Linked DNA regions of Homo sapiens: regions 2 and 3 are each linked to region 1. Evidence: fine-mapped expression QTL. A gene starts in region 1. Each other region holds a variant in brackets. All regions are shown on one strand. Distances are from middle to middle. Region 1 holds the start of MCOLN1 (mucolipin TRP cation channel 1). Region 2 overlaps ARHGEF18 (Rho/Rac guanine nucleotide exchange factor 18). Region 3 holds the start of PEX11G (peroxisomal biogenesis factor 11 gamma).

What was found. PIP is the estimated chance that this variant, and not a neighbour inherited with it, causes the effect.
Region 2: its variant is fine-mapped to the expression of MCOLN1 in lung (TOPMed, PIP above 0.99).
Region 3: its variant is fine-mapped to the expression of MCOLN1 in whole blood (INTERVAL, PIP 0.98).

What each region holds. Positions count from the first base shown.
Region 1 is chr19:7,519,403-7,527,575 of GRCh38, reverse strand. MCOLN1 (mucolipin TRP cation channel 1) reads right to left here and starts at 4,952. Exons shown (of 14, transcript NM_020533.3): 1 at 4,795-4,952; 2 at 2,410-2,615; 3 at 970-1,137; 4 at 650-815; 5 at 1-56. The coding sequence starts at 4,825. ZNF358 (zinc finger protein 358) reads right to left here. Exons shown (of 2, transcript NM_018083.5): 2 at 6,551-8,173. The coding sequence ends at 6,627. LOC105372261 (a long non-coding RNA gene) reads left to right here and starts at 2,612. Exons shown (of 3, transcript XR_936294.3): 1 at 2,612-3,226; 2 at 4,414-4,734. RefSeq lists a silencer at 4,789-4,918.
Region 2 is chr19:7,468,406-7,476,578 of GRCh38, reverse strand. ARHGEF18 (Rho/Rac guanine nucleotide exchange factor 18) reads right to left here. Exons shown (of 29, transcript NM_001367823.1): 27 at 7,448-7,754; 28 at 6,550-6,675; 29 at 4,101-6,453. The coding sequence ends at 6,281. Among named protein-coding and RNA genes, the nearest start is that of PEX11G, 17 kb to the left of the region's middle. RefSeq lists a silencer at 3,375-3,424. The variant T/C (reference allele first, on the strand shown) is at 3,348.
Region 3 is chr19:7,487,897-7,496,066 of GRCh38, reverse strand. It overlaps PEX11G (peroxisomal biogenesis factor 11 gamma), which reads left to right and starts at 7,032. Exons shown (of 5, transcript NM_080662.4): 1 at 7,032-7,116. The coding sequence starts at 7,057. RefSeq lists silencers at 3,030-3,324, 6,846-7,175, 7,226-7,285. The variant T/C (reference allele first, on the strand shown) is at 4,929.

The DNA of each region.
Region 1 (8,173 bases):
GAGATCGTCGCTGGGGGGCGGAGGGGGCCGCTCGGGGGGATCCACCTGGATGCAGTCTAAGGACAGGGAGTCAGGGAAGGGCCTCAGGGGGCCGGGGAGGCCAGGCTGGTCTCCCCAGAGTCCCCAGTGGCCTTCTTCCCTGTGCTTCCCCAGGGTTGGGTCATTCCTACAGGCCTGGCACTCTCTGGGCCTGCGGATGTTTTACTGAATGAGCCATATTAAAATATAACATCTGGTGCTTTCTACGTGGCAAGAGTCACACTCACACTAAGCATACTTGTTTTTTTTTTTTTTTTTTTTTTTTGAGACAGGGTCTCACTCTGTCACCCAGGGTGGAGTGCAGCAGCGTGGTCATAGCTTACTGCAGCCTCAACCTCCCGGACTCAAGCGATCCTCCTGCCTCAGCCTCCTGAGTAGCTGGGACCACAGGGGCACGCCACCACGCCCAGCTAATTTGTTTGTGCGTAGAGACAAGGTCTTCCTACGTGGCCCAGGCTGGTCTCAAACTTCTGGCCTCAAGCAATCCTTCCTCCTCAGCCTCCCAAAGTGCTGGTATTATAGGCGTGAGCCACCGTGCCCAGCCACAGCTGTTGATTTTAATCCCAGCAGCTCAGGCTCCCAACAGTGAAGCCTCGTCCTGCCCACTCACCAGTAACCACCATCGGATCAATGTCAAATGTGTCGTTGGCCGGGTCCACGTGGCCTCGGTGGTAGTACCGCTGGCAGAGAGCAAGCCCTGAGCCATTGGTCCAAGGGTCACCCCCACCACGGACATACGCATACCGGCCCAGTGACACGTCAGGCAACGCCAGGTACTGTGGGCAGAGAAGGGGAGGGCCTGTGAGTCCGGCCCGCTCTCTGCAGCCCACCCACCTGCACCTGCCCGCCCACCAGCACCTGCCCGCCCAACTGCACCTGCCCGCCCACCTGCACCTGCCTGCCCACCAGCACCTGCCCGCCCACCAGCACCTGGTCCACAGCATGGAAGATGGCCTGGTACAGCTGCTCCCGCGTGTAGGCTGCGAAGGTGTCATCCGCTCCGTCCGAGTAGCCCAGCAGGAAGAGGTGTCGGAAGGCGATGGTGTTCTCTTCCCGGAATGTCACAGCCAGCTGATTACTGAGCCCAAACAGGATGAGCTGGGGAGAGGGTAGTAGAGGTTGGCATGGCTAGGATGGGGGTTGGGGTGTATCTCCCTCAGGGCACAGGCCCTGGAAGAGGACAGGGAGGGCCCTGCAGATGTCCACTGGGGTGGGGCAGGGCCCTGCTAACTTGGGCCACAAACACGGATTTCACTTGTGCATTTCTTTGCTTTGATTAATTTCACCCCACCTCCTGGCATAAGCTCCATGCCACGCCCACCACTGTGTCCTCCCCCGTACAACACAGGGTGGGGACTCATCTATCTCACTGCAGGGACTAACGTTCATTAAATGTTTACTGGATGTCCGATTCTGTGTTAAACCCAAACTTTCAGGGTAAGTACCATGACTGGGTCCCTTTTCTTTTCTTTTTTGAGACAGAGTCTCACTCTGTTGCCCAAGTTGGAGTGCCATGGTATGATCTCAGCTCACTACAACCTCCACCCCCTGGGTTCAAGCAATTCTCCTGTCTCAGCCTCCTGAGTAGCTGAGTTACAGGTACCTGCCACCAAACCCAGCTAATTTTTGTATTTTTAGTAGAGACGGGGTTTTGCAATGTTGGCCAGGCTGGTCTCAAACTCCTGGCCTCAAATGATCCACCCAACTCAGCCTCCCAAAGTGCTGGCATTACAGGCATGAGCCACCATGCCTGGACAATTGGGTCCCTTTTCAGAGGGAAAATTAGAGGCATGGTGACATGCTAAAGTCAGCCCAAAACATGAAGTAAGCACTTAGGGCAGTGGCTGGGTCTGATTCATCTTGGGGTTCCCAGAGCCCAGCACAGGGTCTGGCATGGGGGAGGGAGAACTATCTGTGCAGCCATTGGGTCAACATGGTGTCAGACTGCCTGGGTTCAAATCCCAGCTCCCAATGTTCTATTGCTGTGTGACTTTGGGCAAGTCTCCTAACCTCTCTGAGCCTCAGAGTCGGCTTCTTTTTTTTTTTGAGACAGTCTTGCTCTGTTGCCCAGGCTGGAGTGCAGTGGCATGATTTCAGCTCACGGCAACCTCCGCCTCCCAATTCAAGCGATTCTCCTGCCTCAGCCTGCCAAGTAGCTGGGATTACAGGCACCCGCCACCACGCACGGCTAATTTTTTTGTATTTTTAGTAGAGATGGGGTTTCACCATGCTGGCCAGACTGGTCTTGAACTCCCAGCCTCAAGCGATCCACCGGCCTCGGCCTTCCAAAGTGCTGCTTTAAGACTCTCTTCAAGGAGCACAGCAGCCACAGGTGGCCTTCAGCTGGGGCCCCTGCTTGGCTGGCCTCACCTGCACCGTGACCACCAGGATCTTGACCACTTGCAGCATCAGCTTGCAGGGCTTGCGGCCCTTGGCTCGAAACTTGTCGCAGGGACTCATGAAAAAGTATTTGAGACGACGGCGAAGGTCTTCCTCTTCTGGGGGTGTCGGAGGGGCCGGTGAAGGCCCCGCCTGGGTCCCATACCCGGGGTTGGGGGTCAGAAGCCGCTCGGTCTCTGTGGGAATAGGAGAGGGCACTGGGGTGAGGCCTGGGCAACTCCCCTTTTCCCCTTTCTCCAACCAGGAAGGCAGCACACGCCCTATCTTCATGTCCCCATGCTCCTGCCAAGGAAGAGCTCTGAGAGGTCTAAAGAAAACCAGAAAACCTGTGACATTGTAGGTATCTATGCACCCGTCCTGCTCAGAGGTTATGAGTTTGGGTTTGGGAGGTACAGGGCCTGGGCTGATTCCTGCCCCTCCTGCTCACCAGCTCTCTGAGCCTCAGTTTCCTCATCTGCGAAATGGGGCAATAATATGTCTCATGGGAACGCTAAGGACTGGATGCTTATGAAGCATTGATCACAGGGGCTGGTCCATGGTGAATGTCAGAACATTTCATCAATGTTCCCGTTATTGATCAGTGGGGAGAGAATGAACTGCTCCCACTGGCTTTTCACTGGGCGTTCAAGCCTGCTGGGCTTATCCCAACTCCAGCTTCCAGACATGAGCATAGAACTCAGCCTGTATTCTAGGTTTGTCTGGACAAATACCCAAAAGATGACCTCTGGGTTCATTATAACCTGGCCCATCAGCTGACACTCTCAGAAGCCAAGGACCTGGAGAAGAGGTAATTGACAACATAAGTAATAATAATGGAACACATTCGCTAAAGACTCATTTTATCTCCCTGAAAAGCACCAGCTCCTAGAAATCATGCAGCCCTAGCATCAAATCCCAGACCTGCCACTTTACAGTAGGTTGACTCCAGGTACCTCCCTGAGCCTCCATCTCCTCATCTGAAGAGTGGAAATTTTAAAAAGGCGACCCCTTGGCTGGGCTCAGTGGCTCATGCCTGTTATCCCAACGGCTTTGGGAGGCCAAGGTGGGAGGATCCAGCCTAGGTAATACAGCGAGACCTCCCTGTCTACAAAAAAAAAACATTTTTTTTAAATAGTCAGGTGTGACGGCTCATGCCCGTAGTTAGTAGCTGGGACCCCATCTACCCGGGAGGCTGAGTTGGGAGGATCACTTGAGCCCAGGAGTTCGATGTTACAATGAGCTAGGATTATGCCACTGCACTACAGCCTGGGCAACAAAAAAAAGTTTATTAAAAAAAAAAAAAGTCCACCCTCTCCCTGAGCCTTGAGGTTGAGATCCTGAAGCTGCTCTGAGAATTCAGTGAGACACAGCAGATAAAGACCTCTTCAGCAAACACAAGCTGTTCTAATCACTGTTTATTTTTTTCCAGCCTAATGGTTAGATCTAAGCTTTCAGCAACTGCTGGAGTCAAAACCAGTCACAGTAGCCCAAAACTGTCCCTGTCACACCCCCATGGGGATGTGCTTTCTAGGGCCTGGCCCCGTGCTGCTTTCTAGGGCCTGGCCTCCTGCCTAGCAAAGCAGTCAGGATAAATGTGTGCACTGTCAGAACCTCCCTTGCAGAGAGGGACAAGTTCCCGGCCCCTCCCTTTGCAATGAGATGCTGCTGTGGCTGTTTACGACAAAGCCAGAGGGCAGGGCCCGCTTACAGAGCTGAGATTACAGCTAACCCACCCCAGACCCTACTAGCTGGGACACCGGGACATCTATCAGGTAGGGGTCCCCAGCTAGCTCCAGAAGGGGAAGCTAACACAAGGGGTCTTCCTCCAGCCTCCCCGAGGAGGGGTGGCATCAGAATTGGCTAGAAGCCCGAATTTAAGAAGGCTGCGCTTCCAGCGGTTTGGAAAGCTAAAACTGAGTTAATCGCCTGGGGGCAATCCCTCCAGCTCTCCAGGCTTGAGCTTAGGGAAGCTGAGCATTTGTCCCCTGGAATCAGGAGGGGAAGCCTGGGAGTCTCACGTGCGGGTTGGAGAAGCTGGTGCCCGCTGTCTGAGTTCCAGACGAAGTTGAGCAATCGGAACCTAGGCTCCCAGTGGGAATCCCAGGAACCTCGCCGCCCCAGAGGGAGAAGCTGGCGGCCCGGCGCGATCCCTGCCTGAGTTTGGGAACCCAGCAGAGCCTGGGTTCAGGAGGAAGAATTGGAGAGGCTGGTGCCCACCCGCCGCCCAAGTTCTAGGAGCCGTCTGCCCTTTTCTCCACCGTGAAAAGTCAGCGCTGGAGCTTAGAAAAAAAGAGACTAGGAGCTCCGCCGCCCCAGGTGGGAGACACAGCCCGCCCGCCTGAGTTCGGGGCCCCACGGTGCCGCCCGCGCCCTCACCTGAGCCGCGCGGACCCGCCGGGGCTGTCATGCTGGGGCGGGAGCGCGGGACGCAGGCGGGTACGGCGGGGCAGCCTGGGTCCGATCGCCCGCCGCTGTCACTGCGACCTCGCTCCCTCGCGGCGCGGCTTCAAACCCTCCGGCATCAGCTGATCTGTGCCTCGGTCACGTGACCCGGTAGCCCAGAGCCCCTCACGTGACCGCCTCTGGTCCCGCCCCCTGCGCCACGACAACCCCTGCCGGAACAGCGCGCATGCGTGCCTCTGCCGGCGCCCTCTGGGTCGAAGGCAGTCGCTAGGTCCTAGCGCCGACGCGCTCTGGGTGGCGGGGGATGGGCTGACTCTGAGTTTGGCAACGACGAGCTCTGCCCTGGCTCCCGGCCATGCCCCGAATCCGGTGCCAGGCTTGTGACTTCCATGTCCAGAGCTTGACCCCTTATCCTCCTTGGTGCCTGGTGATGACCCTGCCTACTATCTCAACGCTGTCTTCCTCTTTCTCCCAGAAACTCCTTTTACCCTTCTCCTGCGCATCTTCAGCAAACACGATTTCCTAATTATGTATCAAATAGAACCACTTATCCCCACCCCATGGCCCCCAGCCCAGAGTCTTCCAACATTCCTGGCCTGGATCTTTGCAGCAACCTCCTCCCCGATCTCAGCCTCCCTCCACTCCACTCTCTACCCAGCAGCCACAAGCATCTTCAAAGAATAATTCCTATCCTTCCTGCGAGAACCTGCCCTCGGCTTCCCATTGCTCTGTAATGACAGGCAGAGTCCCCACTCTCGTCTATCAGGGCCCTCTGATCTGGCTCCTACCTCCATCCAAAGCTCATCTTTCTATAGCCCCAGAGCCTTTGCATACTTTTGCCCTGGAGCGTAATGGTTAAGAATTTGGACCCTGGAGGGCAATTGGGATTTAAATCTAGGCACTGACAATGCCACTTCTACATCTTCCAGAGTCCCTTCAACTCCAAGCTGAGCGCAGTGGGCGGTGGCATGCACCGGCAATCCCAGCTACTCGGGAGGCTAAGGTGGGAGGATCGCTTGAGCCCAGGAGGTCGAGGCTGCAGTGAGCTATGATCACACCACTGCACTCCAGCCTGGGCAACAGAGCAAGACTGTCTAAAAAAAAAAAAAAAAATGTGCCTCAATTTTCTCATTTGCAAAATGGGGATATTCAAAGTCATCTACCTACTGGGGCTGTTGAGAGGATTAAATGAGAGAATGCAAAAACTATCGCATAAGGCTGGGCAAACAGTACTGATTATTAAATTAGTGATTATTGGGATTACAAAATCCTTCATTGAGAAAGCTGCCTGCCATTTATATCAGAAGTCTTGTTATGCTTCTCCTAGAATGTACTATACCCCGTAATTATTTTTTAAGTATTCTGAATTTAGTATCTATGAGCTCCATGCAGGTCGAGGCCATATTTATCTTGTTCCCTGCTGAGACCCCAGCAATCCAGAGATGTTTGTTGATTGCATAAATGAGCAACTTTTTTTGTCCACTTGTATACCTACTGTATGGGCTTTGAAGAGCAAGGGGTAAGTGAGAGGAACAGAGAGTGGTGACTAGTGGGATGGACCAGGATGAGACACTGTGGGTTAAGCTGGAAAGTCTAGCTGGTGGGCCCAAGAAGGAAGCCAGGACACTGGAGCTCCAGATTGTGGCTGGCCCTGGCCACAATGTCCCATCTCCGGAGCAAGGGGCTGTGCTCAGAAAGAAAGCACAAAAGGCAAGCCACGACACAGAGCCCGGAGGCAGTGGGAGGATTTTACTGACTGCACAACACACAACTTCCCCAGGCCCCCGAGGATGCCGGCGTCTCCTTCAGCCATCAGGCCCCAGCAGTGCCCCTTGCTCCTGTACCCACTCTGGACTCTCGCCGGTAGGGAGGGCTGGGCTGACAGTGCCACGAGTGGGAGAACAGGGGTCAGGGCAGGACACAGGGTTGGGATCAGGGCTGGGCACAGGATCAGGGTCTGGGCTGGGCACAGGATCAAGGTCTGGGCTGGGCACAAGGTCGGGACCAGCGTCGTGCCCAGCCTTTGGGTCAGAAGATTCCACAGGAGTAGGGCTGGGGGTGGATCTGGAGCCGGGGAGGGGTTTGGAGCTGGGATCCGGCAGAGTGCCCGGCCCAGAGCCAGGGTCAGGGTTGCGGCCAGAGCTGGTGCCAGGGCTGAGGCCCAAGCCAGAGCCGAGCACAGAAACAGCATCAGGACCCAGGAGGGAGACCTGCCCCGGCCTCATCATGGATGCAGGGCTTAGGCCAGGCCCGAGGCCCAGGCCGGCGGCCGCTGCTGCAGCTGCAGCGGCCGCGGCAGCTGCAGCAGCGGCTGCACCCTCATGCACCCGTTTGTGCTTGGTGAGGCTGGAGGCCTGGCCGAAGGCCTTCCCGCAGAGCTGACAGCGATAGGGACGCTCGCCCGAATGCACGTGCAGGTGCTGGAGCAGCGCTGAGCTCTGGCCGAAGGCCTTGGAGCAGTGCGGGCAGGCGTAGGGCCGCTCGCCCGTGTGGATGCGCAGGTGGTGTTGCAAGTTGGAGCTCTGCCCGAAGGCTTTGCCGCAGTGGGGGCAGCGGTAGGGGCGCTCGGCCGTGTGTGTGCGCTGGTGCTGCAGCAGCGCCGAGCTCTGCCCGAAGGCCTTGCCGCACTGCGGACACGGGTAGGGCCGCTCGCCCGTGTGCGTGCGCAGGTGTTTGAGCAGCGCAGAGCCCTGGCCGAAGCCCTTGGCGCACACCGGGCACTTGTGGGGCCGCGGGCCGCCGTGCGTGCGCAGGTGCTGTGCCAGGAGCGAGCCGTGCCCGAAGGCCTTGCCACACACCGGGCAGTGGTGCGGCTTCTCCCCGCTGTGGCTGCTGCGATGTTTCAGCAGCGTGGAGCGCCAGCCGAAGGCCTTGCCGCAGGCCGCGCACTGGTACGGCCGCGCCCCAGTGTGGATGCCACGGTGCTGAGCCAGGGTGGCACCGTGGCTGAAGGACTTCCCGCAGTCGGGGCAGCGGTACGGCTTCTCGCCGCTGTGCGTGCGGCGATGCTGGCTCAGCCCGGAGCTGCGGCGGAAGGCTCGCCCGCAATCCGGGCAGGAGAAGGGCCGGGGCGGGCTGGCGGGGGCGGGGAGCACCGCGGGGCTGGTGGCCAAGACCTGGGGGGTGGCAGTGAGGCCAGAGGAGATGGGGTCCACTTTTGGATCGCCGGGGCTGAGGGTGTCGCTGTTAGGATCGAGAATCAGGGGTACGGGGCCAATCACATCTGGATCGAGGTCGAAACTCGAAGACATGGGGTCGGGATCTTGGGGTTCCGAGCCCGGAGCTTCGGCGTCGGGGTCCAGATCCTCCGAGACGGGCTCCAGATCTTCATAGCTGGGGTCCACGTCTTCCG
Region 2 (8,173 bases), 51 kb after region 1:
TGAGCATTTTAAGGGCTCCAGGCTGAGACTGGGCAACACACACTGGCATCGCTGAAGATACTTGGGGCTCCCACCTCAGCCAATGTGTGGTGGGATGGGATGAGGGCACTGCTTAGTCTGCTGGCTGAGAACAACCCTTCAGAGTCTGTGCACATGTGGCCTCTGGCAGACATTGTTGCACAGCCTGGCCCAGGAACACACAACAGCCAGTGTGTGTGCGCCCTTGGGCCTCATGTGATATCAATTGCACTGCCTTGATTTTTATCTTTTTGACCCAGGATCTCTGTCACCCAGGCTGGAGTGCAGTGGTGCGATCATAGCCTCACTGCAGCCTCAAACTCCTGGGCTCAAGGGATCCTCCTACCTCAGCCTCCTGAATAGCAGGAACTACAGGTGTTTATCACCAAATCCAGCTAATTTTTAAACTTTTTGTAGAGACAGGGTCTCACCACATTGCCCAGGCTGGTCTTGAACTCCTGGCTTCAAGTGAGCTGCCTGCCTCGGCCTCCCAGAGTACATTTGTGGTTTGTTTTTTACAAGGAAGATACCAGGTGGCTCTGAGCAGCTGGGAGGCCGGGGACTGCTCAGGGTCACACGGGTGCGGGAGACCCCATCTGTGGGGGCTCCTTCTGCCCAGGACTCACGAGTGGGCCAGGCTTGGTGGGTTTCCCCCTTCTTTCCCTTGTCGGGGGTGCAGGCCTGTCCTGGCCCTCAGCAGAGGCCTCCTTCCCAGCCCCTAGCAGCACCTGCATGATTAGGGCATCTCATTGTCTACCTGGAGACCCAACTACTTACTAGCTCATACCAGTGGGGCCCTTGGAGCAGCGCCTCTGTGTGGGGAAGCCACATGACCACCTGGTCACAGGTGCCAGGAGGAAAAGCAAGCCACCTTCAGGGATACAGCCTGGGCTGGGAAGGCCTTGGACACTGACCATGTGGAGCCCAGGCACAGAGCAGACAGGTTGGATGCTTCCAGAAAGGGAGGCCGCTCTCCCACTCTCTCAGCTGGTCCAGTGGTTGTGTGTGTGTGTGGTTGTGTGTGTGTGTGTGTGTTTAAACAGTTTTATGGAAATATAATTCACATATAAAATTTATCCACAGAAGGGGGACAGTTCAGTGGCTTTTAGTACATTCACAGTCGTGCAAGCAGAGCCACAGTCAACCTTAGAACATTCCATCACCCCAGAGAGAAACCTCACACCCCTCAGCTGTTACCCACCCGCAGCCCCCAGGCTTGGTGACCACTACTCTGTCCCTGGGTTGCCCATTCTGGTCCAGTGGTTTTCAACCTTTTAGGGGCTGGGAACAGACCCCTTTGTGAACCTTAAAGACTACGGGCCCTCTTTTTTGAGACAGAGTCACTCTGTCGCCTAGGCTGGAGTGCGGTGGCGCGATCTCGGCTCACTGCAACCTCCGCCTCCTGGGTTCAAGCAATTCTCTGCCTCAGCCTCCCGAGTAGCTGGGACTACAGGCACGCCCAAGCATGCCTGGCTAATTTTGTATTTTTAGTAGAAACGGGGTTTCACCACGTTGCCCAGGCTGGTCTTGAACTCCTGTGCTCAAGTGATTCACCCACTTCGGCCTCCCAAAGTGCTGGGATTATAGGCGTGGGCCACCGTGCCCAGCCACTACAGGCCCTCTTTGCAGAACATCTCATTTTAGGGTGCCTCCAAGCCCCCCAGGGCCCATAAGGAGTGCTGAGGAAGGCTGGGGGCATCCCAGTGGAGGGGTCAGCTAGGCAGAGGTCAGAGGACGGCTGGGGTTGGGGTGGAGCAAATCAGAGGGTGGGGGGAGACACACACACACACACACACACACACACACTCCAATGCCCACCATCAGGAGAATAGCAACTGGCCAGTTTTATGTTGTGTGCATTTGACCACAATGAAGAAAAAATAGACCAGGCGCGGTGGCTCACGCCTGTAATCCCAGCACTTTGGGAGGCCGAGACAGGCAGATCACCTGAGATTAGGAGTTCAAGACCAGCCTGGTCAACATGGTGAAACCCCATCTCTACAAAAATGCAAAAATTAGCCGGGCATGATGGTGGGTGCCTGTAATCCCAGCTACTCGGGAGGCTGAGGCAGGATAATTACTTGAACCTGGGAGGCGGCGGTTGCAGTGAGTCAAGATAGCGTGCCACTGCACTCCAGCCTGGGTGACAGAGCAAGACTCCATGTCAAAAAAATAAATAAAAATGTAATAAATTAATTACATCCTTTTTTTCTTTTTTTTTTGAGACGAAGTCTCACTGTTGTCCCCCAGGCTGGAGTGCAATCGTGCAGTCTCGGCTCACTGCAACCTCCGCCTCCGGGTTCAACCGCTTCTCTTGCCTCAGCCCCCAGAGTAGCTGGAATTACAGGTGTTTGCCACCACGCCCGGCTGATTTTTGTGTTTTTAGTAGAGATGGGGTTTCAACATGTTGGCCAGGCTGGTCTCAAACTCCGGACCTCAGGTGATCTGCCTGCCTCGGCCTCCCAAAGTGCTGGGATTACAGGCGTGAGCCACTGCGTCCAGCCCTTTTTTCTTTTTTTTTTAAATTTCATTTCTTTTTTCTATCCCCCAAATTTCCTTTTTTTTTTTTAAGCTCTTATAGACAGGGTCTCACCATGTTGCCTAGGCTGGAGTGCAGTGGCACGATCATAGCTCACTGCAACTTTGAACCCCTAGGCTCAAGCAATCCTCCTGCCTTGGCCTCCTGTGTAGCTGGGATTACAGGTGCACGCCACCATACCTGGCTAATTTTTTTTTTTTTTTTTTTTTTTTTGAGACGGAGTCTCGCTCTATTGCCTAGGCTGAGTGCAGTGGCGCAATCTCGGCTCACCGCAAGCTCCGCCTCCTGGGTTCACGCCATTCTCCTGCTTCAGCCTCCCGAGTAGCTGGGACTACAGGCGCCCGCCACCACGCCCGGCTAATTTCTGTATTTTTAGTTGAGACGGGGTTTCACCTTGTTAGCCAGGATGGTCTCGATCTCCTGACCTCGTAATCTGCCCACCTTGGCTTCCCAAAGTGCTGGGATTACACGCGTGAGCCACTGCGCCCGGCCAACCTGGCTAATTTTTTAATTTTTCTGTGAAGGGGTTTCACTATGTTGCCCAGGCTGGTCTTGAACTCCTGGGCTCAAGCTATCCTCCTGCCTCAGCCCCCGCCTCCCCAAAATGCTGGGATTACAGGGATGAGCCACTGTGCCCGGCCCTCCTTTTACTTTTTTAATATGGCTACTAAAAATGAAAAATTCCACACGTGGCCTGCATCATCTTCCTGGTGGACAGTGCTGCCTGAGAGTTCCCTTTTTGCGCTTCCTAGTGAGCTAGTGATCGACTTTACACCTAGTCCCCTTGTGA[T/C]GGGAAACCCTCTGTTGAAACAGCAGGGTCCTCGCCTCACTGGACCGGGACTCAGACCAGGTGGAAATGATGATTTCATACTCATGGCCAAGCTGCCTCTCACCCCAGATGGAGGAAGTGAAAGTTCCAGCCTTTGCGGTTATTGTGGATTAAAAGCAAAAAGATTTTCGTGGAGGCGCCACCAAAGCCTGAAGTGTACCCGGTGGGCAGGACCCTCCACAGGCACCTCCACGCCCCACTCCTGCCCTGTGCCCGTAATCCCAGCACTTTGGGAGGCTGAGGCGGGCAGATCACTTGAGGTCAGGAGTTCGAGACCAGCCTCGCCAACATGGCGAAACCCCATGTCTACTAAAAAAATACAAAAATTAGCTGGGCGTGGTGGTGCACACCTGTAATCCCAGCTACTCAGGAGGCTGAGGCAGGAGAAGTGCTTGAACCCGGGAGGCAGAGGTTGCAGTGAGCTGAGAACCTGCCACTGGTCTCCAGCCTGGGCGACAGAGCAAGACTCTGTCTCAAAAAAACAAACAAACCAAAAAAACAGAAACAAAAACAAAAACAAAACCCCCAACAACTCCTGGGGACTGGACCTGAAGGGGTCTTCAGAGCGTTAAGCAGGACACGGAGGGCAGGTGAGCGAGCTGAGGGGCAGGAGCCATGGGGAGCCCCCAACAGAACCTGCTACTCCTGCAGCAACGTTTGGGCAGAAGAAAATCCTCAAATAAAACCTCCAAGAACGTGCACGCCAGTCACCGCTCATCTCGGACACGTTTATTGCTAGAATCAGGTCTTAAGTTCTAAAGCGGGTCAGAAATATCCCGCAGTGAGGAAATGTTGTAATCATTGTAAAAATAATTAGCAGGTGACTAAGATCATGACCACAACTGACAAAGACGTGTGCAGATCCCACGAAAATAGGAACATTTGCTCGACTGTCAACTTTACAAATAAAATCGGGCTCCAACCCAGGAGTGGCCGAGGGGCACTGGCGAGGGAAGGGCTGTCGGCGCTGCCGCCCGATGCCTAGCACGACTGAGACCCCTCTGCCACATGGCGGGGACGCGGGGTTCCCACCGCGTGGCCGAGCAGAAATTCCTTGAACTTCTCCCCCATCCAAGGAATTGTGGCATCTCGGAGGGCTGGACCGGCACACGCCGGCTCAGGAGGGTGCCAGGGTCTGGGAATGTTCTCTTCACAACAGAACAGGAATGTACAGTCAGCTTCTGTAAAGTGCTCCGATACTCAGTACAAAAATACAAAACACTGATGATAAACATGGCACACATGGGATCTGACGGGGGGCGGACAGCGTCGCTGATGGCCAGGGACCGGGCTGGGCAGAGTTGAGGTCGTCGGAGGGGCCAGGAGCCTGGGGACACCTGGCCACTGTGTTCTCAGGACCTTGTCACCAATGGGCTGTATGGCTGTGGGGCTCTGGTTCCCGGTTGGCACCAGCTCCTGCCCCGCCCCCTCCTGAGCCCACAGCACCCAGTGGGCGCCTCTGCCCAGGGGAGCACTTCCTGATGGAGTTTCCCCTCCCTTGTGCCCATCTGTCCCCGAGTGGCGGGAATGTCCCTGTTCACTGTATTCAGCGTCACAGGAGTGCCTCTGCCAGCACAGTGGGAGAAGGGCTGAATCCCCCCGGGATCTGCAGTTCCCAGGACCCTGGGTTCGGGAGAAGGACTTGGCCCTGGCAGGGGCTCACATGTACCCCACTGGGAACAAGGACGATCAGCCAGGACCCAGTCCTACCACCAATGCTTGGGGTGCAGAACAAGGCTTGACATGGGCCCTTTCTCCACCGGAGCTGGATCGTGGATGGATCTCACCACCCTGGGATGTCCCAGCACCTTTGATGCTGCCCAACACCTCCTTCCTCCACCCCTCCAGGGAACGGACCGTAAGCTGCAACAGCTCACTACAAGCGAGGGGCCCGCACAGCGGCCACTTGTCCACTTGCTGCAACGTCTCTAGGTGCATCCTCTGCATGCCCTGGGACATGGCGCTCTCGACAGTCTGTGATGTGCCAGCCCCCACCTGGAAGGTGGGACGCCAGCCCTGGGAGCTCATTTCCCGGGGGCTGAGGACCCTGTGCCCAGGGTGTGTACCCGCCCTGGCTGAAGCTAGAGGCCCGCTCCCCCAGACAGGCTGAGCGTGTGAACAGCAACGGTTGCCCTTGGGAAGCAGAGTTTGGGAAACAGCTGGTTTCAAAACCAATGCCAAGTAAAAAGGGGCAAAGGTCAGCCCCTTTCACGATGGGCTTCCAAACCCACAGAACCTGACTGGAGGGCCACTGATGTTCCCTCAGTGGGCCCTGCCCCGTGGCCCTCTCTGCCCATGCCCCCGTGCCTGGCTCATTCCCTGACCCTGAGGTTCATGGTGAACCTGCGTGGGGCTCTGTTTGGGAAGTGGATTCTGCCTGATTCTGGGGACAGATGCTGCCGACGCCACCTGGCCCCTCCTGGTGCCCTAACCCTTGGCTCCACTGTCGCGCGGCGGCTGTGGAGCGTGGCCCCGGCCGGCAGCTCCTTCTCAAAGCAAGGTCTGTCCTGTCCTCAGCTCCGTGCAGAGCCGGCACCGTTCCTCACTGCCTCGGAAAAACAGCTCGGAGTTGATCTCCCCGCCACCCGGATGGGGTGCTATGATTTCAGACAGCTCCCTGGTTTAGTTCTGGCTCAACTTTCCATTAAAAACTTTCCTTTTTGAAAAAAAAAAAAAGAGATTCAGAAAGTGACCCCGGCACCACCGCTAACCCTACAGAAACAGCTGCAAGGCCCAGAGCACCGACAGGCTGGCCCCTGCCAGGCGGTCATCAGTGGTTTGCTAGGGAAGAGGAGGGGACAGCTGGGTGGGCATGGTGACCCCATGGGGGTCCCCAGAGAGCAGGAAGGGTGGGCAGGGCAGGGAGGGGCCTTGCACCTTGAGTCACGGCCCTTTTAGAAGAAGATGACGTCTTCTTTGCTGGCGTCCTCCTTGGCGCTGAGTGGTGTGGCCGGCAGTGGCGAGGGAGCTGGGGGCCCGGGCAGGAGGGCTGTGCCCCCGGCCTTGAGAGAGAAGCCCTCGGAGGGGCTGTCAGCTGGCGGTGGGCTCGGGGCGGGGAAGCCAGGGTCTGGAACAGAGAGAGGGTTCAGACTGAGCAGTCGCCGGGTGGTGCCGCAGCCCCGCTGCCCTGGGACTGGGCTCATGTCAGGGGGTGGGGGCTCACCTGGTGGGGGCGCAGGACTGTGTCTGCCGGGCAGGATAGGGCTCAGCGAGCGGCGGTTCCGTGAGGTGCTCTCATCTTTCCCCATGAGCTTGTTGAGCAGCAGCTGCTGCTTCAGGTCGAAGGACGCTGGAAGAGAGAAGGTATTTGGGCCAGCTCCAGGCTGGCCAGCTGTCCCCACCCGCCAGGGCAGCCTCCGAGAGCAGAGGGGCCTGGCCACCCCCACCTGACACTTCCCACGGGCGGCCTGGATCCCGTGACCTGAGCTGCTCAGATGCTAAGCCCCAGATTCAGGGAGAACGGCCCCAACCTCCCTGCGGAAGGACCTGCAGAGTCACCCGGCATCTGGAGAGGAGGCTGAGCCTCCTGTGGAAATAGCACAGGCCCTAGTGACCACGGGACACACCCTTAATCTTCAGAGAACATCCCAGAACATCCCTGGTTGTCCCCCAGGGAGGTGTCCCCCAGAGGAGCTCCTGGACATCCTCCGTGGAAACACTGGGGCTGCTCTGGGCTCCGTGTCCCACTCTGTGGAACGGCTCTGTGGAACTGGGACAATGAGCAGAGGCGCCTGCACCTGTCCCTGTCCCGGCTGTGCTGATCCCACGTGGCCAGGGATCTCTGCCTTCTTGCCCGTGTCCCTTTCTAAGGCTCCTGGTCCCCATCCCACTGTTTTGAGGGTTGAGGTGGAGAAGATGCAGGGTGGATCATCTCAGTTTTGGGCCTGGAGACCAAACACGGCCCTGTGTGGGGTGGCCTCAGCCACGATGCCAGCTGTGCCTTCTGGTTTTCCTCTCCAGAGGATGGCACAGGTGTCCCGAATTTCCTGGCTCCCAGCGAGCCGCTAGAGCCTGACCAGTTGCACCTTCCAGGCCCAGGCGAAGGGGTGGGGCCGGCTCACCTGAGCTCTCCCAGCGCTGAGAGCCCCTGCTCTTGCCGCCCTTGTCCTTGCCACCCTTGGTGGAGGCCGCCAGCTTGGTGGGGATCTGCTGCTGCACGGCCGCCTGCCTCTGGAACTGGTTGGTGGCGCTGAGCAGCTGGATGGGCACATCGCTCTTGGCCAGCCGGTTCTCGGTGGGGGCGCTGTCCCGGCGAGCCACCTCGGGGCGCTCTGCGTACTCTGGCCCCACGCCGGATGGCAGCATGCTCACACGAGGGCCCTCCAGCCCTTCCCCGTTGAAGCTGGGAGGGTGGCTTGGGGGCTGGGCCTGAGGGGACAACAGCAGATACATCCAATGTGAGGTTCCTGCTGTGCGGCCTCTGGAGAGCCCCCGAGGGTCGTGCACAGGAGACCCTCGACCTCTCCTGTTCTGGACAGAGCCAGGTGCAGCCTGAAGGAGCTGCTGGTCATTGCCCGTCCCCAACCCCTGCTAAATGTGCAGACTTGTGGTGACACTCAGTGGCACCCATACTGTCACACACTCATATACAAACATCTCACACATCCGTGTCCACATCTGTTCACAGAACCCATGGTTTATAGATTTGTTTTCAGAGACACGGTCTTGCTCTGTCACCCAGGCTAGAATGCAGTGGCACAATCATAGCTCTTGAGCCTCTTGGGCTCAAATGATCCCCCTGCCTCAGCCTCCCAAGTAGTTTGGATTACAGGTATGTGCCACCACGC
Region 3 (8,170 bases), 32 kb after region 1:
GCCAACATGGTGAAACCCTGTCTCTACTAAAAATATAAAAAATAGCCGGGTGTGGTGGCGGGCACCTGTATTCCCAGCTACTCAGGAGCCTGAGGCAGGAGAATTGCGTGAACCCAGGAGGCGGAGGTTGCAGTGAGCTGAGATCACGCCATTGCACTCCAGCCTGGGAGACAAGAGCAAAACTCTGTCTCAAAGAAAAAAAAAACTAGCTGGGCATGGTGGCGGGCACCTGTAATCCCAGCTACTCAGGAGGCTGAGGCAGGAGAATCGCTTGAACCCAGGTGGTGGAGGTTGCAGTGAACTGAGATCGTGCCACTGCACTCCAGCTTGGGCCACAGAGCAAAACTCTGTCTCAAAAAAAAAAAAAGAAGCAAGGGCGGCTGAGTGCAGTGCCTCAGGCCTGTAATCCCATCACTTTGAGAGGCTGAAGCGGGAGGACTGCTTGAGCCCAGGTGTTTGAGACCAGCCTGGGCAACACAGTGAGACCCTATCTCTATAAAAAATTAAAAAGCCAGGTGCGGTGGCGCGTGCCTATAGTCCCAGCTACTTGGGAGGCTAAGGTGGGAAGATTTCTTGAACCCAGGACATTGAGGTTGCAGTGAGGGTGCAGTGAGCTATGATTCCGCCACTGCACTCCAGCCTGGGTGACAGAGTGAGACTCTGTCTCAGAAACAACACAAAACAAAAGAGCAGCTAGGGAGAGAAGTAACTATTATTCAGCATCTTAATCATCTGTATGAAGAAGTCAGAAGGAAGGAAGGAGAGAGGGAGGGAAGGAAGGAAGGGAGGGAGCGAGGGAGGGAGGGAGGGAGGGATTTGGGATCTGCAGTTCTGTTAGGTGTTTTGGGGGCACGGTTTTGTTTTTTGTGCAAATCCTGCCTCCTTAGAGCTCCAGGGAAGCTGGGAGCTGGAAGGAAGGAAGGAAGGACGAAGGGAAGGAAGGAGGGAGGAAGGGAGGGAAAGGAAGGAAGAAGGAAAGAAGGAGGGAAGGAGGGAGGGAGAGAAGGAGGGAAGGAAGCAGGGAGGGAGGGAAAGGAAGGAAGAAGGAAGGAAGGAGGGAGGGAGGGGAAGGAGGGAAGGAAGGAAGGAAAGAAAGAAAGAAAGAAGTCAGAAGACTAAAGCTGTGCTTGGTAAGGAACAGCCGTTGCTGGTATTAGCTAGTAGCAGAGGAGGTCCAGTTACTCTGATAGTGTGGACAGTGTTCGTGTTTTGCCTGTGTTCAGACATGATTATGGAGCAGGCTTGTTTTGTCTTGCTCTGCCGCGGTCACAGAGTGGCCTTGTCTGATGTCGGCGTCATGTGAGATTGTTTATGTCCAGCAGGAGGACACCAGGGCCCTGCTTTGACTGCCAGGCCAGCTCCTAGCAACACCAAGGCCAGCTGTGAACACCAGGCCAGCTCCTGTGTCTTTTTCAAAGGTCGAGCTCAGACCTAGCCAGATGGGGGACGCTGGGAGGGCTGGGCTGTGTCTGCAAAGCTCACTGCTGTATCTCTGTTGCCTAGAGCGGGACCCGGCACACAGGAAGCATTCGGGCAAATGCATTGCGCTGTTCCAAGGCTCTTGGGCCTGAGAGGAGGGATCTGCTTATTCATGCAGCAGCAGGCTTTGCGGCCAGTGACCTCTTTCCTCTGCATGTCTGGACCTTGGCTTTGGATTTTTTTTTGTTTTACTTTTTTAGAGATGGGTCTTGCTGACGCCCAGGCTGGAGTGCAGTGGCGTGATCTCGGTTCACTGCAACCTCCACCTCCTGGATTCAATCGATTCTCGTGCCTCAGACTCCTGAGTAGCTGGGACCACAGGCACAGGCCACTGCAGCTGGCTTGGCTTCAATTTTTCTGCTGTGAAAACAGTGACCCCGTGGCTGGGCGCAGTGGCTCATGCCTGTAATCCCAGCACTTTAGGAGGCTGAGATGGGAGGATTCCCCAAGGTCAGGAGTTCGAGACCAGCCTGGCCAACAGGGCAAAACCCCATCTCTACTAAAAATACAAAAATTAGCTGGGCGTGGTGGTGGGTGCCTGTAATCCTAGCTACTTGGGAGGCTGAGGCAGGAGAATCACTTGAACCCAGAGGCAGAGGTTGCAGTGAGCTAAGATCATACCACTGTATTCCAGCCTGGGTGACAGAGCGAGACTCTGACTCTAAAAAAAAAAAAAAAGAGTGACCCCCCCACTGGGGGAGAGGGGAGTGCACAAAGACCCGTGGACCCAAGTCTTTTTTTTTTTTTTGAGACGGGGTTTCACCATATTGGCCAGGCTGGTCTCCAACTCCTGACCTCAAGTGATCCACCTGCCTTGGCCTCCCAAAGTATTGGGATTACAGGTGTGAGTCACTGAGCTCAGCCAGTGGACCCAAGTCTTAAAAGGAGCTGGATGTGGAAGTTAAAGAGTCTCTTGGGGCCAGGTGTGGTGGCACACACCTGTAATCCCAGTGCTATGGGAGGCTGAGGATGGAGGATCACTTGAACCCAGGAGTTCAATGCAGCAGTGGTGCTATGATCATGCCACTGCACTCCAGCCTGGGCAACAGAGCGAGACCCTGTCTCAAAAACAAACAAGAAGAAAAAAAAAAGAGGCTGGGCATGGTGGCCCATGCCTGTAATCCCAGCAGTTTGGGAGGCCGAAGTGGGTGGATCACTTGAGCCCAGGAGTTTGAGACCAGCCTGGCCAACATGGTGAGACCCTATTTCTATTAAAAACTCCAAAAATTAGTGGGGGCGTGGTAGCAGGTGCCTGTAATCCCAGCTGGTTGGGAGGCTGAGGCAGGAGAATTGCTTGAACCCGGGAGGTGGAGATGGCAGTGAGCCGAAATCATGCCACTGCACTCCAGCCTGGGCAACCGAGTGAGACTCTGTTTAAAAACAAAAACAGAAAGAGAGAGAGACAGAGAGGAAGAAAATCACAGGAGTGGACAAGGCCTTTCTTGTGCCCCCTTGTGTTCCATGCTCCCTTGGAGCACAAGAAGAGATCTTTGGACAGGGCAGTGAAACTTACAAAACAGATTCTCTGTTTTCTGCCAGGCTGTGCGGATATAGCCATGAACAAGACAGGTCACCAGCAGGTAACATGGGTAGGAAGTGTCCAGGAGGGTGTGATCGGGTGGGTCCCGTGAGAGGATGACATTCGAGTAAAGGAAGTTAGGGAAGGAGGGAGCCACGTTGGTATCTGGCTCAAGAACATTTCTGCAGAGGAAACAGAACATGCAAAGTTCCTGAGGCAGGAATCTGCTGTAACTTTAAACAACAGGAGGAAAGCAATGCAGGAGAAGAGTAACAAGAGTTGAAATCAAGAGGAAATATTCTGTGAAAGAAAACTGGTTAACATCGAGGCCAGACGCGGTGACTCACGCCTATAATCCCAGCACTTTGGGAGGCCGAGGTGGGCAGATTTCTTGAGATCAGGAGTTGGAGACCAGCCTGGCCAACATGGCGAAACCCCGTCTCTACTAAAAGTCTAAAATTAGCCGGGCACAGTGGCGGGTGTGCTGTAATCCCAGCTATTTGGGAGGCTGAGGCATGAGAATCGCTTGAACCTGGGAGGTGGAGGTTGCAGTGAGCTGAGATCAGCACTGCACTCCAGCCTAGGCAATAGAGTGACACTCTGTCTCAAAAAAAAAAATTCAAACAAACCAACAAACAGACTCGTTGACATCATTAGTCATCAGGAAAAGGCAAAACAAAACCACAATGGGGTGGCACGTCACACCTACTACGATGGCTATCATAATCAAAAAAGGATGTTGCAAGGAAGTGGCGAAATTGGAACCTTTGTGTAATGCTGGTGGGGATGGAAAATGGTACTGCTACTGTGGGAAACAGTTGGGCAATTACTCAAAAAGTTCAACATAGAGTTACAAAATGACCCAGCAACCCCACTTCTAGGTATAGACCCAAAGGAATGGAATCCAGGGACTCCAACTACATATTCACAAATGTTTATAGCTGTACTTATTCACGATCGCTAAAAGGCAGAAACAGCCCAAATGACCATCAGCTGATACGTGGATAAACAAAATGTGGTCCATCCATATGGCGCAATGTTATATAGCTGCAAGTGGAATGAATTTCTGATACATGCTGCAACTTAGACAAACCTCAACACCATTATGCTCAGCTGCACGCAGTGGCTCACACCTGTAATCCCAGCACTTTGGGAGGCCAAGGCAGGAGGATCCCTTGAGTCCAGGAGGTCGAAACCAGCCTGGTGAACATAGCGAGACCGCATCTCTACAAAAGAAAAATTTTAAAAATTGGCCAGATGTGGTGGCGTGCACCTGTAGTCCCAGGCAATGTGGAGGCTGAGGCAGGAGGATCTCTCAGGCCCAGGAGTTCAAGGCTGCAGTGAGCTATGATCACACCACCGCACTCCAGCCTGGTGACACAGCAAGACCCTGTCTCAAAAACAAAAAGCAAAAACCAAAACAACCTATTATGCTTGGTGGAAGAGGCCGACACAAATGGTCACATATTGTATGATTCCATTTGTATGAAATATCAAGGAGGTCGGGCATGGTGGCTCATGCCTGTAATCCCAGCACTTTGGGAGGTCGAGGCAGGCAGATCCCTTGAGGTCAAGAGTTCAAGACCAGCCTGGCCAACATGGTAAAATCCATCTCTACTACAAATACAAAAATTAGCCGGGTGTGGTGGTGCGCACCTGTACTCTCAGCCACTTGGGAGGCCGAGGCAGGAGAATTGCTTGAACTTGGGAGGCGGAGGCTGCCGTGAGCTGAGATCATGCCACTGCACTCCAGTCTGGGTGACAGAGTGAGACTCTGTCTCAAAAAAAAAAAAAAAAAAAAAAAATCAAGAAGTGGTAAAAATACAGAGAGACAGCAGAGAATGCAGATTAGTGGTTGCCAGGGGCTGGGAGGAGGGAGGAATTGAGTGATTGCTTTATGGGAACAGGGTGTAGGGGAGGAAACATACTT[T/C]TTCCTTTATTCTTAGTTCTTAGCTGTGATGGATCCTTGCAATGAAAGAATTAAGAAGGGCGGGTGCGGTGGTTCACGCCTGTAATTCCAGCACTTTGGAAGGTCGACGTGGGAAGATTGCTTAAGCCCAGGGCTCAAGGCCAGCCTGGGTAACATGGTAAGACTCCATTTCTACAAAAAATAAAAAATAAAAAGAAATTAGCCAATTGTGGTGGCAGGCACCTGTGGTCCCACCTACTCAGGATGCTGAGGTGGCAGGATGGCTTGATCCCAGGAGTTCAAGGCTGCAGTGAGTTAAGATCGTGCCGCTGCACTCTACCCCTTTTTTGTGGGTAGTTGGTCAAGCTACCATGGGGCAGAATGTAGCAAGCTCTGGGCATCATCCTGGGTCCTCAGGCCCAGAGAGCACACAAGTGGCGGCTTCACATCTACAAATTTGGTTCCTCCCAGAGCGAGGCCCTGTCTCAAAAAAAAAAAAAAAAAAAAAAAAAAAAAATAGAGGCCAGGCGCGGTGGCTCACGCCTGTAATCCTAGCACTTTGGGAGGCAGAGACGGGCGGATCACGAGGTCAGGAGATCAAGACCATCCTGGCTAACACGGTGAAACCCCGTCTCTACTAAAAATACAAAAAAAAAAAAAAAAAAAAAATTACCCAGGCGTGGTGGCGGGCGCCTGTAGTAGTGCCAGCTACTCGGGAGGCTGAGGCAGAAGAATGGCGTGAACCCGCGAGGCGGAGCTTGCAGTGAGCCGAGATCGTGCCACTGCACTCCAGCCTGGGCGACAGAGCGAGGCTCCGTCTAAAAAAAAAAAATTAACAAGGGAAAAACAAATTTATTAACATGTGTACCTTATGTGTACATGGGAGATGCCAAGAGAAATGAGGTGGCTTATATAGCTTATATAACTCCTGCTTATATAGCACCTTCAACATATAGCAGCAAATTTTTGGAGAAGTGACAAGACGAAGGAAAAGGACATTGAGGCCGGGTGCGGTGGCTCACGCTTGTAATCCCAGCACTTTGGGAGGCCGAGGCGGGCGGATCACTTGAGGCCAGGAATTTGAGAACAGCCTGGCCAACGTGGTGAAACCCCGACTCTACCAAAAATACAAAAATTAGCCGGGCACAGTGGTGCACAGCTGTGATCCCAGCTACTTGGGAAGCTGAGGCACGAGAATCGCTTGAACCAGGGAAGCGGAGGACGCAGTGAGCAGAGATGGCGCTACTGCACTCTAGCTTTGGGGACAGAGCAAGACTCCGTCTCAAAAAAAAAGAAAAAAAAAAAAAAGACGTCTCCAGACAAGAGTCTAAAGGTGTCCCTGGTGATCAACCTTTGTCCTTCCTGGTAGAGAGGGGAGGAGGGCACCTTTGTACCTTTAGGTCCTGCTTTGAGGCAAATCAGGGAAGAACAGAGAGCTTTTCCGGTATCAGCTTCATTGATCTCAGCTCAAAATAATCCTACACCAAGGTCGCATATTTCAGAGGGGCATATGCTGGTCTCCTACGGGGGTCTCTCTTGGGGGTGATAAAAATACCCCGAAACTAGCAAGGGGTGATGGTTGTCCAACATGTGCATGTACTAATGTCACTGAATTGTGCATTTTTATTTTTTATTTATGTATTCTAGAACAATTCTTAACGTCCAAAGATAACGTCTTTCCTTAACGTCGAAAGATGCCTTGTTGTGATATTACAGCAGTCATTCCTGCTCACTACGGGCAGGCAGACAGTGCAGAAAAGGTGAAGCACAAAAACTAAAAAGGAAAATCTCTCCTTGAACCACTGCGAACAGGTTGGTGGTTTTGCTTGGAATATTTTTGGAGCGTGTGGGTAGTTGGTTAAACTTAGAAATATATTTTTTTGTGCGTGGGTAGTTGGCCAAACCGCCGTGGGGCAGAATGCAGCAAACTCCGAGGATGATCCAGGGTCTGCAGGCCTGGAGAGCACACACGTGTCGGCCCCACCTCTGCAAACTCTGTCCCTCCCCTACAGCGGACAAAAAGCCGGTCAGGGGGACAAAGGCCTGCGGCCGCGCCTGCGCGCAAGCCTTTGGGGCGCTCCCGGTACCCCGGCCTGGCCCCGCCCCCTGGCGCGGCGCGCCGACGTCGCGGTGACGTCACGGAGTTGCCATGGCGTCGCTGAGCGGCCTGGCGTCGGCGCTGGAGTCGTACAGGGGCCGGGACCGCCTGGTGAGGCAGGGGCGGACCGGGGCCGGAGGTCCTAGAGTTTGGCCCAAGCTCAGAGACTGGGAAACGGGCCAGAGAGGGGACGGGGTCGCCCAGGATACTCCGTCGCAGAGGCCCCGTCCGAGCTAGGCTCAAATGCGGTGCCCTAGCATTGGACATTTATGTATTTATTTATTTTGGCTGGAGTGCAGTGGTGCGATCTCTGCTCACTGCAGCCTCCGCTTCCCGGGTTCAAGCGATTCTCCTGCCTCAGCACTCCCGAGTAGCTGGGACTACAGGCGCCCGCCACCACTCCCTGCTATTTTTTTGTATTTTTAGTAGAGACGGAGTTTCATCGTGTTAGCCAGGATGGTCTCGATCTCCTGGCCTCAAGCGATCCACCTGCCTCGGCCTCCCAAAGTGCTGGGATTACAGGCGTGAGCCACCGCGTCTGGCCAGCGTTGGACATTTAGATAGTTTCTGCCAACCCAACCTGTCTGGACATTGACACACTGGCCAGATTCCCGTGTTTGGACGTTTTGGATCCGACCAGGCCACTGAAGTTGTCCTGAACAATCTCGTGTTGGGATTTGGGATGTTGCAGGGCTCCCCTGTGGCTGGACATTCACTTCCAACCAGATTCCCTATAGTTGGGCATTTAGGTTGTTTCAGCCAACCTAGACCAAAGAACACGCCATGGCCTGGGCCCTGCCATGCCTAAGCAGCGATGGGTTCCAACAAAACCCCAGTTGGTCATTTAGATCGTCTCTGCCAACCCAGCCTGGCTGGACGTTTACATACCAAACAGATTCCCATGTTTGGACATTTAGGATCTGACCGGGCCACTGTAGTTGGTCCCTGGGTTGTCCCAAACAATCTCATGTGGGGATTTAGGATATTGCAAGACTCTCCCTATGGCTGGACAGTTTTTAGTTCCAATCAAGTCCCATATGGTTGAACATTTAGGTTATGCCATCCATGCCCCTGAGTCTGGACTCTTAGCTTGTCCCCACCAGTCTCTTATAGGTAGACATTCAGGTTGTACCAGGCGGTGTACTGGTGGCTAGGCATTTAGATT